Regions from separate parts of the Homo sapiens genome. Here region 2 is linked to region 1. The links come from fine-mapping of genetic effects on gene expression. Tissue or cell type: spinal cord. Region 1 holds a variant in brackets; the other region holds the start of a gene. All regions are shown on one strand. Distances are between the middles of the regions.

What was found. PIP is the estimated chance that this variant, and not a neighbour inherited with it, causes the effect.
Region 2: ADAM12 starts here. The variant in region 1 is fine-mapped to the expression of ADAM12 in spinal cord (GTEx, PIP above 0.99).

The regions. Positions count from the first base shown.
Region 1 is chr10:126,196,927-126,205,105 of GRCh38, forward strand. The region is part of intron 3 of ADAM12 (ADAM metallopeptidase domain 12); the gene reads right to left. Among named protein-coding and RNA genes, the nearest start is that of ADAM12, 190 kb to the right of the region's middle. RefSeq lists a silencer at 3,505-3,685. The variant A/G (reference allele first, on the strand shown) is at 5,004.
Region 2 is chr10:126,383,389-126,391,567 of GRCh38, forward strand. ADAM12 (ADAM metallopeptidase domain 12) reads right to left here and starts at 5,089. Exons shown (of 23, transcript NM_001288973.2): 1 at 4,670-5,089. The coding sequence starts at 4,757.

The DNA of each region.
Region 1 (8,179 bases):
GGGAGACTAGGGGACAAAGGAAAAATTCAGATAGGGCAGGGGATCTAGGGTATAGAGGCCTTGGAAGCCGGGCTGACAAATTTGACCCATCATTTTGGGTAAGAGGGAGCTGCTGTGGCTTTAAGATGGGAAGAAGAGAAAGAAGTAGAAATCTGCCGTGCAATCCAGACCTGAGATAAAGAAGACACGGTCCCAGGTGGAGGCAGGGGTGGTGTGGAAGACATGGCTAGGTGAGGAGCTATTTGTAAAGACAGACTTAGAGATGACGAAGCAAAGATGAGCTGGTTGGAAAGGGCACTGACTAGGGCCCCTACAGGGAGTGACAAGGCATCTTTTGGACAAAGTCCATTGGTGAACTCTGGAAGAAGCCAGCTGCATCTGATCTGTCCTCGAATCCCTGAGGCCGAGCCTGGTGCCCAGAACATAGAACAAGCTCGGGATACATGTCCCAGGCTTGAGCGGAAGGGAGGCAAGTTGAGGGTTTTGGTGATGCAGCCTGGAGGCTGTGCACCACAGGAGGTCCACAGCAAGACTGTGAGTGACCCTGTGGGAGAGGACAGTCGTGTGCTTCCCTCCTGGGGTTGCAGAGGAAGCACAACCAAGCCAGGAGTCCGAAGAGGAGCAGCACAAAGATGGAATGGAAGTCAGGGAATTTCTCATTGCTGGGAACTAAATGACTGATTTAAGGAAGGCCGGATGGTTGAGCATCTGAGGACACAGAGGTAAGCCTGAGAAACAGACCTGGGTTTGGCATGCAGGAGCCTGCCTGGCTGCATTTGGTATTTATATATCACTGGTGCCCAACAAATAGTCAATGAATTTGGAGGCTGAAGTAAAGATACTTAGGTGGCCATGTGACAGAGAGAAGTGATGCTGGTAGGGACATCTTTGGGAAGGGAGGGAGGTTATGAGTGGAGAAGAAGCAAGAAAATGCTTCACAGGCCTGAAAGCCCCAGACAGCGGGTGGTACGTGGAAGGCCTAAGTCTCCACCACGCATGGGGTGACATCACCTCCGTGAACTGCAGGAATGGGAGAGGGAAGGGACTGGGGCTTCAATGTGAAATTACAGTTCTTCATTCCACACAAAGACATGTGTTCCAAATTAACATCACTGTTTCCTAAGAAGCGTGAAGATGCAAACCAGGTATCTCCTCATGGGTTGGGGCTGGTGTTCAGTCAAGATGGACAGCCACTACGGGCCTTGCTCTCCTCCCTTGAGTCCACGGCCCTCCCTGGAAAGCCCCCTGTGGGAGGTGCAGATGCAGGACAGGAGAGGGGTCAGTCACCGTTGCAGACGCCCATGCTCTCCGGCATCAGTAGACACATTTCAAAGACTGAATCTCAACCCTGCCATGGCAGAGGGGAGGTCACGCTATCAGGAAGGTCTGTACCTTTTTCTGGTCTAATGAAGTGTAAGACGACAGAATTTACACAACCAGGAGAGAGACCAGAAGGGCCCGGCAAGTCTCATCACCCACATGCTGGATTTGTCTCCAGCTCCTGGAGCCATTGGGAGGGGCCATATGTTCTGCATTTCACCGGCTCTTGCAGTGAAATATTTGCTATCTGGTTTGTGGACGCAAAATGTGCAACCAGGGCCAGTGTAGCCTTTAGCTCGTGTGAATCCTGCAGCTTCTGTTTCTGGGCCTGAAGACAGAGATCCAGCACCTCCCCTGCTGCTCCTACCCAGCTGTGGGTGCCGGGGATCTCTGCCTGCACCTCTGGATGAGGCTGAGTGCCTGGCACGCATCCTTGCAAAGCAAATGAACAACCATTACAAACAGACTCAGTTTTCATCTCAAGGTAGGTCTGTGCTTAAACCTGACAATATGCTCTTTCCATTTTATTTTTCTTTAAACCCCACCAAATTTCATGTGTATTTATGAATATACTGTTACTGCCAAATTCCTGGCACTTTATTCATATTAGAAACTCCCAGCTGTGGTGAGAAAAGAGGAGAACATTTTTCAAGAGGGGAAGAAATGACTTTTCCCAGTATATCAGAAATATGTCCCATTTTATTACCACTATCTGATATCAAAGAGTAAGGAAGGTAGGCTTGAGCAGAAGGCCTGTAGATTCCAGAAATTTCTTTCAGGGCATCTGTGTCTTTTTATGGTGAGCTTTGTGCTTTTGGGGCCCTAGGAATAAGGAATTTAAGTTATGTAGTCAAGTCCTCAGTCTCACTTTAAAACTACCTGCTTACCAGGTTGAAGACCCCAATAAGTTTAGACTAACCACCTGAATGAAGGTTTCGTTTGGGGCAATTATCTAGATGATTCAGTAAAGTGTAAGAAAAAGTGATTTCAAAGCCTTGGACAATGACAGGAGGATGAGGCAACCCAGCCCTGCTGAAAACTTATCCACCTAATCACCATCGAGATCAGCGGGCCTGACCATCCCGCTGAAATGGCCGGTGTTCATTTCAAGTCATGCCAACAATCATATCTGCTTGCAGTGCATGAGTCATTTTAGGCATAACGGCCACCAGCCAATTTCAACGACTACCCATGACTCAGCCATATTGTCAAGTTCGCAGCCCCTCCTGGCCTCCAGCTAATGCGTTGGGATTCTACCGCAGAAACGCTCCCATAAACCTCTGCTCATCAAGTGTCATCAGCCCCATGCATCATGTGACCCTGTCTGTGGGAAGCTGCTGCTGCTTCCCAGAGTGTGTCTCGGACCGTCTTACACATCTAAACAAAACCAGGTTTTCATTTTTAGACTTCAGTGAGTTATTTTACTAAATCAGAGAAAAATAAACATTTAGAATTACAAATGGAATACATATAAAGTTTCTGTACATGTCAGTAATATTCCCTGATAATGAAAGAATAAGGATGCATTCTTTTAAAATAAGTCATCCTATCCCTGTCTCTCTAGCTAATTGAGATTGTGCATGACCTTGAGAAAGGCATTAAGGTTTGTTCTATTAACAAACATAGACAGTGTGCACCTGATCAAAGCAATGCTTTTTGGTCAAATGATTGACTAACAAAAACAAAAGCCCACTGGCACAAAATACAGGCACTCAATGGGGTCTTCCACACGCACCATGACCTATGTATATAGTCCATCAACAGAAGGAAGGACAGTGACTTACACACTAGTTACCAGACAATTACCACCTACGAGATGCTCTTTAATATTCACTGTTCTATTAATTAGAATATTCTATGAATTGGTATTTCCATGCAGGGTCTGACCTGGGCCACATAATGAGGTGGAACAGGTGCAAGCTGTTAAGGTTGGCAAGAAGTGCAGCTCACACGGGGACTGGATGGTCTGAGGGCACTAGGAGGGAGCAGGAAGGACTCCAGACTTCCTAGGTCTTCAGTTAACTCAATGGTTTTTGTCTTTGAAAATGGAGTAACAGATTAATAACCATGACATTGATCCCCAAACACGATCAGATGCCTTCAAGTATGGTCTCAAGGCTCAGGAAGTTTATGCTCTAATTATGAAAATGAAATTGAACAGTAACCAACACCAATAAAAGCAGGAGCATTTGGAGGTTAAAAACCAGAATTTTGGAGTCAGAAAAATCAGCACGACTCCTGTCTCCATCTCCCACTACTTGGTGAGATCTTGGGCAAGGGATTTGCCTCCCTCAGCCTCAGCATCTTAATCGACAACACCACGATATAATGGTTCCCACACTGTGGAGCTGCCGTGGGGTGCCAATAAGATAATGTGTGCAAAGAGCTCAGTTACGGTGCCCAGTGAACTCTCCAGGAACGTTAGCTATTTATGGCAAGAGCAACATCAGCAGCAACAAAGCACCAGATGAGAAGCTCTAAATGGTTCAGAATGTTCAAAGGAGAGAGGATTCTCAATAGGTTGGAGTCTCCAAGACTCTAGAGAAAGAGCCCAGGATGTGGTTTGAGATGGACGTTGGAGAGTTGTTAGGACTTAGATTTTGTGTACGTGATGGGGGCAGGGTGGTGGTGGTGGTTAAATCAAAGCAACAGAGATGCTGTAAGCAAAGGCACAGATATTGTAAATGGCACATGGAATGTTCTAGAAACAGTAGACCAGTCTGGGCAGGGCATAAATTTCTCATATGGGAGGTAATAGGACGTGATCCTAGAAAGGTGGGGTTGTCCAGGCTGGAAAAGAGTATGAGCATCAGGCTAAAGTAGTCAGAATTTCTTCCACAGGCCAAATGGTTATTGAACAACGGAGTGAGAAAAAGGGATCATTTGAGAAAGGATAACATGATGTGTGCCGTGGGTTGAACCGTCCTTCCAAAAAGATACGTTTAACTCCTACTTCCCGGCACCTGTGATGGTGACTTTATTTAAAAATAGGTTCTTTGCAGACGTAACCAAGCTAAGTTGAGGTCATACTGGAGTAGTGTGGGCCTTACAAGGAGAGGGAAATTTGAACACAGGCACGCAGAGAGGAGGCTGCCATGAGACGAAACAGAGATACAGAAGAGAAACAGGGGAAAAGGCCAAGTGACAAGGGAGGCAGAGACTGGAGTGTTGTTGCCACGAGCCAAAAACGCCAGGGAACCCCAGGCAAGCACCAGAAGCTGGAAGAGGCGAGGAAGGGTTCCTCCCAGAGCCTTGGGAGGGAACGTGGCCCTGCCAGAAGTCACAAGTCCTGGATTTAGGATTTCTGCCTTCCAGAGCTGCGAGAGACCGAGTTTCTGTTGTTTGAAGCCACTCAGTTTGTGGTGCTTCATTACAGCAGCCCTGGGAGATGGGGAACTGGCAATGTACAGGGAAGACATGATGTAGTCACCAGATGAGAGAGTGGTGGTGACAAGGAACAGAGCTGAGAAGCCATTCTTAGAGTGGATCAAAGACCTGGAGATACAACGGTGAAATGAAGAAAGAAAAAGGGAAGTGGTAAGAACCCAGAGAACCGAGGTGCTCCCATTGATAGAAAGAAAGACCAGGCAGAAACAAAAACAGAGAGGTGTTGGCTCTGAGCAAGACCTTCTACCTCGAGCAGAGAGGCCTGCCCCAGAGAGAGGCAGCAGGCTAGTTCAGCA[A/G]CGTTGTCGTTCACATAAAGAACGTCCAGGGAAAGAATGGGCGGGCCTTCTTTTTGCAAGGTCAGAGCTCGTCCAGTGGAAAGGCTCTGGGGCTGCAACGCACAGGATGTACAGCACCAGTGCCAGGCCTCCTTGTCCACTTCCATTCACTCTTGTCTTAATGCCTTGGCAATTAAAACTTCCAAACATCTCAGTCGATTCTTCTTCCACTGTGGCTGGAGATCCACCCCATGTGGGGAAGTTCTACTCCGAAACTTATTCCCATGGGTTTCTAGCTATTAGTACCTGTGGAAAACTTTTGCTTTATTTCAAGATCTTTAGAAAAATAAACAGGGCATACCATAATTGTTGGTTAATTTGTTTTCAGTTAATTGATTCCAGATTTCAGCCTTTCTGACTATTACCACTTTTACCTTTTTCAGCCTATCCTTAAGTTCACTGAACTGTAATTTTGTATAAATTTAATGACTATCCAATGACATTACGAAGTCTGAAAATCTTGCTTTTGTATCTTGAGGTGTCCTACCCTGTAATCCGAGGGTTTGAAAAACCCCAAAATGCTCTACTACTTCTCTCTCTCTCTCTCTCTCTCTTTAACCAGAAGAAGATAAAGGTCACTCTGCAGTCAGAATAATTGCTGCAGTGGATTGAAGATATTTTTAAAAACTTTCTCTCAAAATTACAGATTTAAGATGACAACGAAAGTAAAATTGCAGTTGAACTCCAAAGCAAAACCTTCAACTAAAAATACAAACTACTCACAACGTACAATTTTGCCGGGGCCAAGAGGCAAAAGAGCTTCATATCAACAGAATTCTCATAATCTCTGAGTGTCTACAGAACTCAAGTGGCTTCAAGTTGTATAAAGTCCCCAAATCACTGCAGGTTCGCAGACGTACGTGTCTCTGAAATGCTCTAACATTTTTCCGAAGGTCAAAGTGAGACTCGATCTTTAAACCACCGAAAGAAAAAAATGTCTCCTTTCAAGACTTTTTATTTCACATTGAAATTAAAAATTAAAATTAAAAAGTTTCACATTGTTGCAGATAGTAGAATACAGGGGAAATTGTGTACAAAGTTCCATACTGGCTCCTTTTAACTGGACATCTTTTGTGAAAGTTCAGGTGCCCAACTAGTTGTCATCAGCGAAGGAGTAAGGAAGGAAGAATGAATTATGGAGACAGCGATGGTCAGGTTTTTAATTCAGTAAAAACCACAAAAAACCTTTATTTCTAAACTGAAAGTTTCTTACCTTAATAACTAATCAGAGTGTACATTTTATTTAATCTATAGGGATTGTAGTAGTAATTTCCTATAAGAAACTAGAAAGTATTCTTTATTTGACATGCATATTAATATGTCTATGCCTTCCTACCAACACCTATTGGAAAGAATTATAGTCTGAAGGAGAAGAAATAGCTTGGTTCAGTTGTTACTAAAATCATATTTAAGGTAAATATTGCAACAGACGTTTTATTTTATAAAAAGCAAGTATAGTGAAATTCCTGTGTGGAATGGAGGTGCTTCAGCCAAGAAAAATTATGTTTTACACATTTCAGACGTTCTTTTTGAATAAATATAGAAGCATAAACACGCAGAAATACAGAAGTCAGGAAGAAAAATGATTTGGGCATAAACTCTATCAAAGCATCAAATACCATTTTACTGAAGAGCTGTTCAATTTTTAGATAAGAAATCATGTTTCACAAACATACCCTAAATACCCTTTGCTTATCTGACAGGATCTGATCAAATATCTTTTGAGGTAAAATTTTCCTTCCTACTCCCACAAATTCTTCAGAAACTGCTTAGCAGAACTATTTAAAAAAATAAGTTTCATAACTTTGGGCAATGTGAGAGTGTGACCCACAGAGACTGTGCTATGGCCCAGTTCTGTGTTGGGAGTGTGGCTGCCTGTGATGGACTTCACCCTCTGTGGTGGACTTCACTCTCTGTGGTAGATGTATTCTTGGAGAAATCAAGCAAATCAGAGTGAGTGCGCGCGCGCGCGTGTGTGTGTGTGTGTGTGTGTGAACCAAACTAAGTCATCTTTTCAATGTCCCCAGAAGTTCACCCAGGAGTTGAAGGAATTCTGCAACAAATTATTCACAGTAGGAGCTGCCAATGCAAGGCTGCCAGTGGCGAATGCTTTGGCTGCTGAACCCCCAGCTCCTATCTCCAGCCCCTGGTTCCTCATGGAGAAGCCACCTCCTACTTCAGAGGCTAGAAATGGAAATCTCCCCACCCCTGGCAGCCAGCTCCAGTCAGTGGATCTGCTGGGAAACTTTCTAGAAACATTTTCTTCCCTAACAAGAAGCGTAATACAAGGGAGGAAACATGGCTTCCCTTTCCCCTCCATTAGACATTGTTGGGTGAAGATGTGATGCTTGGAACTGGAGCTTTCCATCACCTGTGACTAGGAGAAAGCCCAGAGAATTGCAGAAAGGCTGGCCCAGGATGCAGGTGCTGTCAGCTGCTAAATTAGCCTCACCTAGCAGTGCCACCTCTGGGTGACTGTGTCTGTGAGACAATAAGCTCCTCATTGCTGAGTCACTCTGGGTCAGGTATTCTGTTACTCACATGGAACAGAAAGCAGATTCCCGCTTCATGCCCTTTCTTCAGGGCATTTTCCTCTGGGAAATCCCTCTCATCCCTCAACGTTTAGTCTATGAGTAACTCAAGAGACCGCAAATGAAAATGTGGCACCTTTGTTCATAAATTGTTAAGAATTTAAAGACGGTGATAGCAGAGCATTAAACCAACCATGGGCCCTTCTAGCTGTGAGGCCTTGTGTGACCACTCGGACTGCACATTCATGAAGGTGGCCCTATTTACGGGCTTATCTTACCTACCAAATGGGTAGCACATTTTTTCTGTAAAAGGCCAGATCATAAATATTACAGGCTTTCCAGGCCTCACAGTCTTTGTCACAACTACCCAACTCTGCGCTATTCTAAGTAGATTAGATAGGTTGGAACCCACCCACAGTCACAAGAATGGGCATGAGAACCACGTTTGCCAAGAGTAACCCCAGGTTCTTGGCCAGGGTGGATTGGCTCGGGGCTAGGCACCTGACGGAAGCCAGGCCATTTGGACACCACCAAGTCTTTCCAGAAGGTACTTGGGAAAGATGGTACCTTTCCCCTGGAGTTCCATAGCTAATACTGTGTGATCTG
Region 2 (8,179 bases), 190 kb after region 1:
TCAGCTAATAGCAGTTTCAGAAAAGCTGTGGTAAAAACAGTGAGGAAGAAATAATTGAAGAACGAATATAAGAAAGTATACTAAAACTTGACAACATGAATATTCAAACTGAAGGGGCCCACTGAGTTCCTAACAATTACTGATAAGAGCATTGCTAAAGCACATAATCATAAAACGCAAAAATACTAGTGACAACGAAAAAAGATAATCACTTCCAAAAAGAAAAAAAGACTACATTTAAAGGTTTGACAAGCAGAATACCATCAACTTCTCAAGCAGTAATGGCCATAGAGACATTGAAGAAATGCCTTATAAAATACTGAGAAAATATGATTTCTTTCTTGGAATTTTATACCTAAACAAACTAGCAATCAAGGGTGGAATGAATGAATGTGTGTTTATCTATATATTTTATACAAGGTATGCCAGAGACACATTCCAACCTTTGTTTTTACTCACAGAACTGTTTTGTTTGAAGCAGCAATGTACATAGTTAAAAATATTTACTTTTCTAGTATTCTGTACAAGCTAGCAGGGGCCCTGGGTCACAGTCTAGCCAATGATATCTAAGACAAAATCTACTACAAACGCTTATGGAAATATTATTTTCCTGATGAAAATAGATTTGACTGGTTCTGCCTTTTGTCCTTTCTGCTGTATTACTGCCTGGAATGCAGATATGATGCCAAGAGGTACAGCAGCTATCATGAGACCATGAGGAAGTAAGCATAAAGGCAAAAGTCAACATCTACGTATCGCAGATAGAAATAAAAGAAAGTGCTTGGGTCCCCGATCACATCAGTGACCTGACACACCAGTTACACCAGCCACCAAAATACTTACTTTGCAACTGCTTGTAAAGAATACGAGCTTGTAAAAATTGCTGCTGTCATGTTTTTTTGTTATTTGCAGCTGAAAGCATCCCTGACATATTCACAAGTTATCAAAAAAAGTTGTATCTTCCCAACACCCATCCTCAGGAAGTTACTGGAAAACGTGCTCCACAGAAATGAGGAATGAACTAAGAAAAATTTACAGTGCTCAGAATACAGATGATTCAACACAGGAAGGATGCAAGAGGAATTCTTAGCGTCTTGGTAATAAGGGTAGTCCTGAGATAACAGCTGTAATGTATGCCTAAAAAGTAACCCGTGAGTCACATTGGAACAGGAGGATGAGGGGCTCTAGGAAAGATGACATCAGGAAAAAAAAAATCATGGCTAGACTACCTGATGTGTTGGATCATATTGAAAGGAGGTTGATAGTTCTTCCAGAAAGTGTGGAAGTAAAATAGAGGTTGCGTAAGGGATGGGAAAAACCAAAAACCAAGTATTCTCCCTACTCTCACTCTCAGTACCGAATGTTTCACCTCTGGTCACCCAAATGTGTGGGAGTTTCTCCCCACCAACCACCAGTTCTTCAGTAGAGATCAACTGGGAGTCCTACAATTTAACTCTATTCTGACTCTATCTACCTGGAGAAAGCATCAGATCACACAGGTTAAGGGCTCAGTCCCACAAGACTTCCCCCCAATGTCAGATGCCAATCACAAGTAGTAGGTTGTCACACCTATACTTCTGACCAACTAGCTATAAGTTGGGGGTCCACAACCCCCTTCTCAGGTTCAGTTAATTTGCTAGGTAAGCTCACAGAACCACAGAAAACACTTGCTTATATTTACCAGTTTATTATATTAATGAAGGATGTAATTAGGGACACAGATGAAAAACAGTTGGAAGAGATGCAAAGGGCAGAGAATGTGGAAAGGGATACAGAGCTTCTGTGTCCTCTCTAGATACGCCACCCTCCAGGAACTTTGATTTGCTCAGCAATCTGGAAATTCTACAAACCTTGTCCTTTGGGGGGTTTATGGAGGCCTAATTACACAGCCATGATTAATTACACCATTGGCGATCAAGTCAACCTTCAATCCGTCTCCCCTCCCTGGAGGTTGCAAGGGAGGTGGCACTAAAAGTCCCAACTCTAATCATGCCTTAACAAGCTCATTAGCATACAAAAGACACTCTTAATACCCCAGAGATTCCAAGGATTTTAGGAGTTCTGTGCCAGGAACCAGGGGCAGAGACATATTTCTTATTATATCACAATATCACAGCTTGGTGCACAGAAAATAAAGCAAACAAAAATCAAGACAAGGCAATCATTAACTCTAGGAAAAGCAAAAAGTTACAAGAGGGATGAAATGCCATAAAACACTGCACGGCAAAACAGTGAAAAGTATTTGCAAAGTCTTCTTAGTGCAAACATTGAATTTTTTTTTAATGATGGCACTACTATATTGGGTAGTTGAAAAGAAGAGAAGGCAGTGTGTCTGGAGTAGGGTGAGCAAAGGGAGAATGGTAAGAAAGGAGATCAGAAAGGAAAACAGGAATTAGGTCATGCTGAGGTTTGGATTTTCTTTCCTAAGGGTGCTAGAGAGCCACTGGGGAGTTTTAGACAGGAAACTTGAATGCTCTAACTCATGTTTGAAAATAATAACTTTGGCTCTATTGTGGAGGAAAATATACCATGCAGGGATAAGGTGAAAAGCCAGTAGGCCCGTTGGGTAAGAGGGATAAGAGGCTTCTGCAGAAGAGATTTTTCCTATAATGTGGCCTGGACTGGGAAAGGCACACTTCGGGATGTAAGGAAGTGGGTAGGTGGGAATATACTTAGGAGGTTGGTGGCTTACGGAGTAAAAAGAGGGACACAGGGATGACTTCCTGCATGTCAGCACAAGGCATGTGGAGAAGGCAGAGGAGGTTGTTACTGGGTTCAGGAAGGCTGGGGAGGGAATGATTTGCAACTAGAGAGTCTGGGATCTAGGGTTCTGTTTTGGACTTGTTAGGCCGAGTTGCCCCAGAAAGTACCAAGTAGGCAACTGTGCCAGGGCTCAGGGTACAGACAAGGCTAGGGAGAAACTCAGAATATGCTCAGACTCAACAGGTAGTAATTCCTCCTTTTCTCTTGCCAATGCAAAGAAATGTTTCATTATATGTTTGGCGTTTTATACGGCCTCAATGGTATGATTTGGGGCACTGATTGATTGAAGACTTGATACTGAGAATCTAAGGGTAAACAAGCAGTGAATCCTGGAATATATCACAATAGGTAACCCATTCAAAGTGCTTAGGCCTCCCTGGTTTTCTATTTTGGGTCATATCTGTCTTAAGGAAACACTCTCTCTACCAAAGCTGAACTCATAAAATAGTAAAAGTCCTCCCCCGCCCACACACACAAGAAATAATTTCCCATTATTAGCTGGATTTAATAAACATTTTCTTCCAAAAAAAAAATTTGTCCCTGCTCAGTAGACTTCTCTTTATGTGTACAAAGCACGTGCCAAGTTAAAGACCATGTCAGGCACACTTTGAGACACTTTCCGTTTTTTAAAAAGTTCTTTCTTAATAAACATTCAAAAGGACCAATTTGTTTAAAAGTCTTTCAAAGCACAATTCACTACAGGTCGTAGAGTTCTTTAAACCCTCAGCAGGATTCTTTCTTGACTTTCTCATTGCTTTGTGCAATCTTTGTATTTAATCATTTATCCCCGAATTGGTCTTCGCAGTGTGGCTTTTAACAAGAACTGGGTTTTAGCCACATTACAGTAGACGCGGTGGGGGCGGAGGGCAGCAGTGGCAATCGCAAAATAAAACGTATCATAAAGTGGTAACGGTTCGTGATTTAGGCCAGTTGTTGAAAAATAAATGCCTGTTATATAGAATCACAGAACTTGAGAGCTTGCGGCCAAGGGAAGTCGTTCATCGGTGGACCGACAGCGCCCCGGGCGGCAGAAAGAAGGCGGCGGCGGCGGAGACCCGGGGAAGTTGCCGGATTTTTAAAAAGGCACCTGCTGGGTGAGTCCTCACTGTGCAAACGGGAGCCACAGGTGCCCGATTTTAAGGGGCTACAACTCGGGAAAACCTAAGTCTGTAAAACTAAGTACGTTAAACTAAGTAAGTTCTCGCTGTGCACCAAGTTGATGGGGGCGATTATTTACGGCGGAGAAACTGAGTGGAGGAAGGAGGGAGAATTCCGCTAAAGTTTGCCTGCGACTGACAGCTAGGGAGTGACCTGGAAGCCAGGAAGAGGGGCAGAGAGGAAACTAAAGAAGTAGGTAAGAGAGTCAGTTTATGAAAATAGAGCCTGCTGTGGAGAGCAGCAGGCACACCTGCGGAGGAGGGGGCTGCCTCACCTGCGGGGCCGCTGCGCGCCCCCCTAAGTGTGTTAGCGGGGGAGGCGGGGCTGGAAAGGAAACCTGGTGAAGGGCTGGCCCGGAGCCTGGGGTGGGGATATTCACTGCGGGATAGGGCCAGCAAGAGGACCCGACACGCATCGTCCCGAGTGACACGTGTAAATGTCAAGATACAGAGACATCTGCAAATGTCACCCAAGAGGGTGAGGACGGGGGAGCGGTCCCGAGGCTGTGCCCTCCGGGGCAGGTACTGGCTCCTGTGGGGCTGCGGGCCAAGTGTCGCCCTTCCCCAAGGAATTGGCACCTGGGGGGGGGGGGTCGGTCTCGCCGCGCTGGAAGCGCAAGCCCCGGGGCTCCGGAGATGCGCCGGGGCGCGTCGCCCCTCGGGGCAGCCCTGGACCTCGGCGCGCCCAGGCGCAGCGTGCGGTGCCCTCGGCGGGGCGGGCAGCGAGCCGCCCTAGTTCGGCGACTTACCTCGGGCCTCGCAGGGCGCGAGCAGAGCACCGGCCAGGGCGAGCAGGAGGGCGCGGGCGGGGGACACGGGCAGCGGGCGCGCTGCCATCGTCGCCGGCCTTCAGTGCAGCAGCTCTCGGGCCCGGCGGCGAGCGCTGCACCATCCCACGCGGGCGCCGAGCCGGGGCCGGGCGTCGCGACCGGAGGGATTTCCTGCCTCGGCGAGTCAGCTCCGGAGCCCTCGCGCAGCGCCCGCGCCGCCGCTGAGCTCTTCTAGCCTTTCATTTTTAAAAAAGTTTCCCCCCGTGTGTGTGCGTGCGTGCGCGCGCGCGCGCCGTTCTGGCACAAGCCAGCCTTGACCGTTGCAATAAATGAGCAAACTGTCCGAGTTGGCCCGGGGACTAGGAAGAGCGTTAGTGAGAGAAGGCAGGCCTGTGAAATGGATCCACGGCCAGCAGTCACCGTTCTTATTACCGCGGAACAAATTATTGTCTCCCCCGCACCCCCGCCAGTTGGCGGCGTCCCGCGGGTCCTAGAGACCGCTCGGGTCCCCCCGCCAGGGTCCCGCCCCGAGCCGCGGCTCGCTCACCCCCGAGGGTGGGCGGCTCAGACGTGGCTCAGTGGCGTCCGGGCGCCCGGAGCGCACACGTCCCCGCCCCAGGATGATGTGGCCGCAGGGCCCGGGGCGCCCGGCTGCCAAGCGCACATGCGGCGGCACGGTCCAGCTTTTCAGGCTGAAGCTGGAAACGATGACTCTGCTACTCGCTCCCCGGCTCTCTGGGAACCCTCGGAGTGCGGGTCAGGTCTCCACCGCGGCCCACAGCCCGGCGCGCGACCCCGCCCGGCCCTAAGCGCCCAAAGGGGCATCTCTCGCCCGAGAAACAAGCTTGGACTCGCAGGCACAAGACACCTGGGCGTTACTTTTGATCAACAGTGTTAGGTTTTACGTTGATAGATTGGCTCACGTTTCCATTCCATGACCTGGACCCAGAAAAGGGTGTACAGTGACGTTCCCCAAACTTTCCTGATTGTAAGAAGCACCTGGGTTGGCTTGTTAAAAAGATTCCCGGGCGCCCTCCTACGCTTTCAGAATGAGACTCTCCAGGCTGTGAGGCCAGGGGAGCCCAGGGTGTTTGGAGAAACACCAATGAAAGAATGGTGCGCCTTGCCTTCTCATCCTTGTTCCGGGCTGACCCCACCTCTTCAGCCTCGCTCGGCCCTCAGGGAGACCATGAAAAGCAGCAGCGAGGGGGCCCGCACAGACAGAAATGGCTGGAGCTATGGAGGATGGCTGATGCCCACCCTGCGGGTTACCATGATTCCCAACCTTGGGGACTTATTAGAATAGTAAGAGTTAAAGACATTGCCAGCCCCAGACACCAGTTAACTCAGTTTCCCACAATGCGTGGAGCTCAATAGTTTTCAAAGCCTCAGGTGATTCTACTGTGCTGCTCAGACCTAGGACCACCTGCAGAAATTCCATCCTGGTCCTGCGACCTCGCACCGATTCCTGACGGAGCACCCACTCCTAGGAGGCGGTTATCCAGCATTTGAGGAAGCTGCCTTCCATACCATCTCTTCCCACTGCAGAGGAGTTTTCTCAGGAGTTCCCTCCCACGGCAGGTTTTGCAGTGTTCCCAAAACCCAGGTCGATCCTCCTAACAAGGTGCAGGACTTTCTTTTTAAAAAACCTTAGTGGGAAGCACAGGCTCTCCAGCCCCCTTCCCAATGCTGCCATATCTCAGTACCAGATCTGGAAACCAGGCCTGGTTCAAGCCCTGTGTCATATCTAACCGTACTACCAACCAGCGTTGCAGTGTACTTCTTTTGTTCATTCATTCAGTCAATCTACATGAGCAACCCTATGTTAGAACTTGGGAAACTAAACGAGAAAGCCTCTTGCCTTCAAAGACTTTTCTTTCTGATCAAACTGATAAATCATCATTATTGGACAGTGTGAGCTAGTTACTTAACCTAGTTAATAATGATTAGGCTTGTTTACTGATATGGTTTGGCTGTGTCCCCACCCAAATCTCATCTTGAATTCCCATGTGTTGTGGGAGGGACCTGGTGGGAGGTAATTGAATCATGGGGGCAGGTCTTTCCTGTGCTGTTCTCATGGTAGTGGATAAGTCTCAAAAGATCTGATGGTTTTAAAAAGAGGAGTTCCCCTCCACAAGCTCTCTCTCACTTTCTGCCTGCTACCATCCATGTAAGACATGACTTGCCCCTTCATGTCTTCTGCCCTAGCCATGTGGAAATGTAGGTCCATTAAACGTTTTTCCTGTATAATTTTACCCAGTCTTGTGTATGTCTTTATCAGCAGCACGAAAACAGACTATTTACTACTTCATAATTCATTACATACCTCGTATAATCGGAGTATTGTGCTAACGTCTTTCACCTGCATTATTTCATTTTTTAAGTCCTGAATATACAGATGAGGAAACTGCAGCATAGAGATGTAGCTTTCCCACCACCACACAGTGAAGTAGGTCAGAGCCCAACCTCAGATCTGTTAAAGATAAAGCCTGTTTCTTTAAGGCTGAGTTCCAACCTTCAGTTTTAGCAGCTGTTAAGTGAAGGTAAAATACAAACCTCCCAGGTGGTTGTGAGCACCAGGTGAAATAATGCAATGTCTCCCAACCCACCTGATCCCTGGGATGTCTGTTAAGAATTCAATTCCTCTGGCGTTTGCACTGGAGATTCTCATTAGAAAGGTCTGGGAAGGACAAGTTTTAGCAAGTACTTAGGTGATCCTGATACTTGTGGCCCATAGAACTTCAGACACATCGACGCAAGAGAATTAAAAATTGTTTTCTTCCAGCTCAAAGGGCCAGATTTGCTTGCAGATGAGCCCAGCCACTGGCCTCTCGGATCCTTCTGACTGGTTAAATGGTTTATTCACAATGGACCTAACATGTGCTGTGCACTGGGCTGGGGGCCTTGTATACATTTTCTCTTAATGATCAATTTATTTTCGCTCTTTCATATTCAATTGTTAATGTTGACTGTAAAAGTCCAATTTCTTTTAAACCTGGATGTTGCAAAGCTTCCTCCAAAGAACTAAATGTGCCCCAAGACTGTCCTTGATTTGTTTCTGACTGAACGAAAGAAAACAGCCATTGCAGAGGAAAAATGAAGAAAAATAAAATCCTGGCTGCAAGCTCTGGATTTCAACCCTGTAATTCACCATCTCTGTGAAGCAAGCGGCCTGGGCTGACACTGTCTCCACAAAGCCTTCATAGACATCAATAACAGCCAGCTAAGGCAAAGAGCAAATCCTGCGTCTGGCAGATGGTCTGTCTTTGGATGGAAATTCTGCCTCCTCATTCACAGGAAATGGAAGCCGACATCACATTCAATACTGGATTGTTAGGTAATGGTGTGGGGTCAGAGGCCAGGATCTACACACGAAAATTTCAGATAGATGGCTGGTTGTCCCTTCCTTTCTGGAAGAATTGACCTTTGCAATACTGTTTCCTGTGTGCTATTTTCGTTTAACAGCCTGGGCATTCACAACGAACAGGG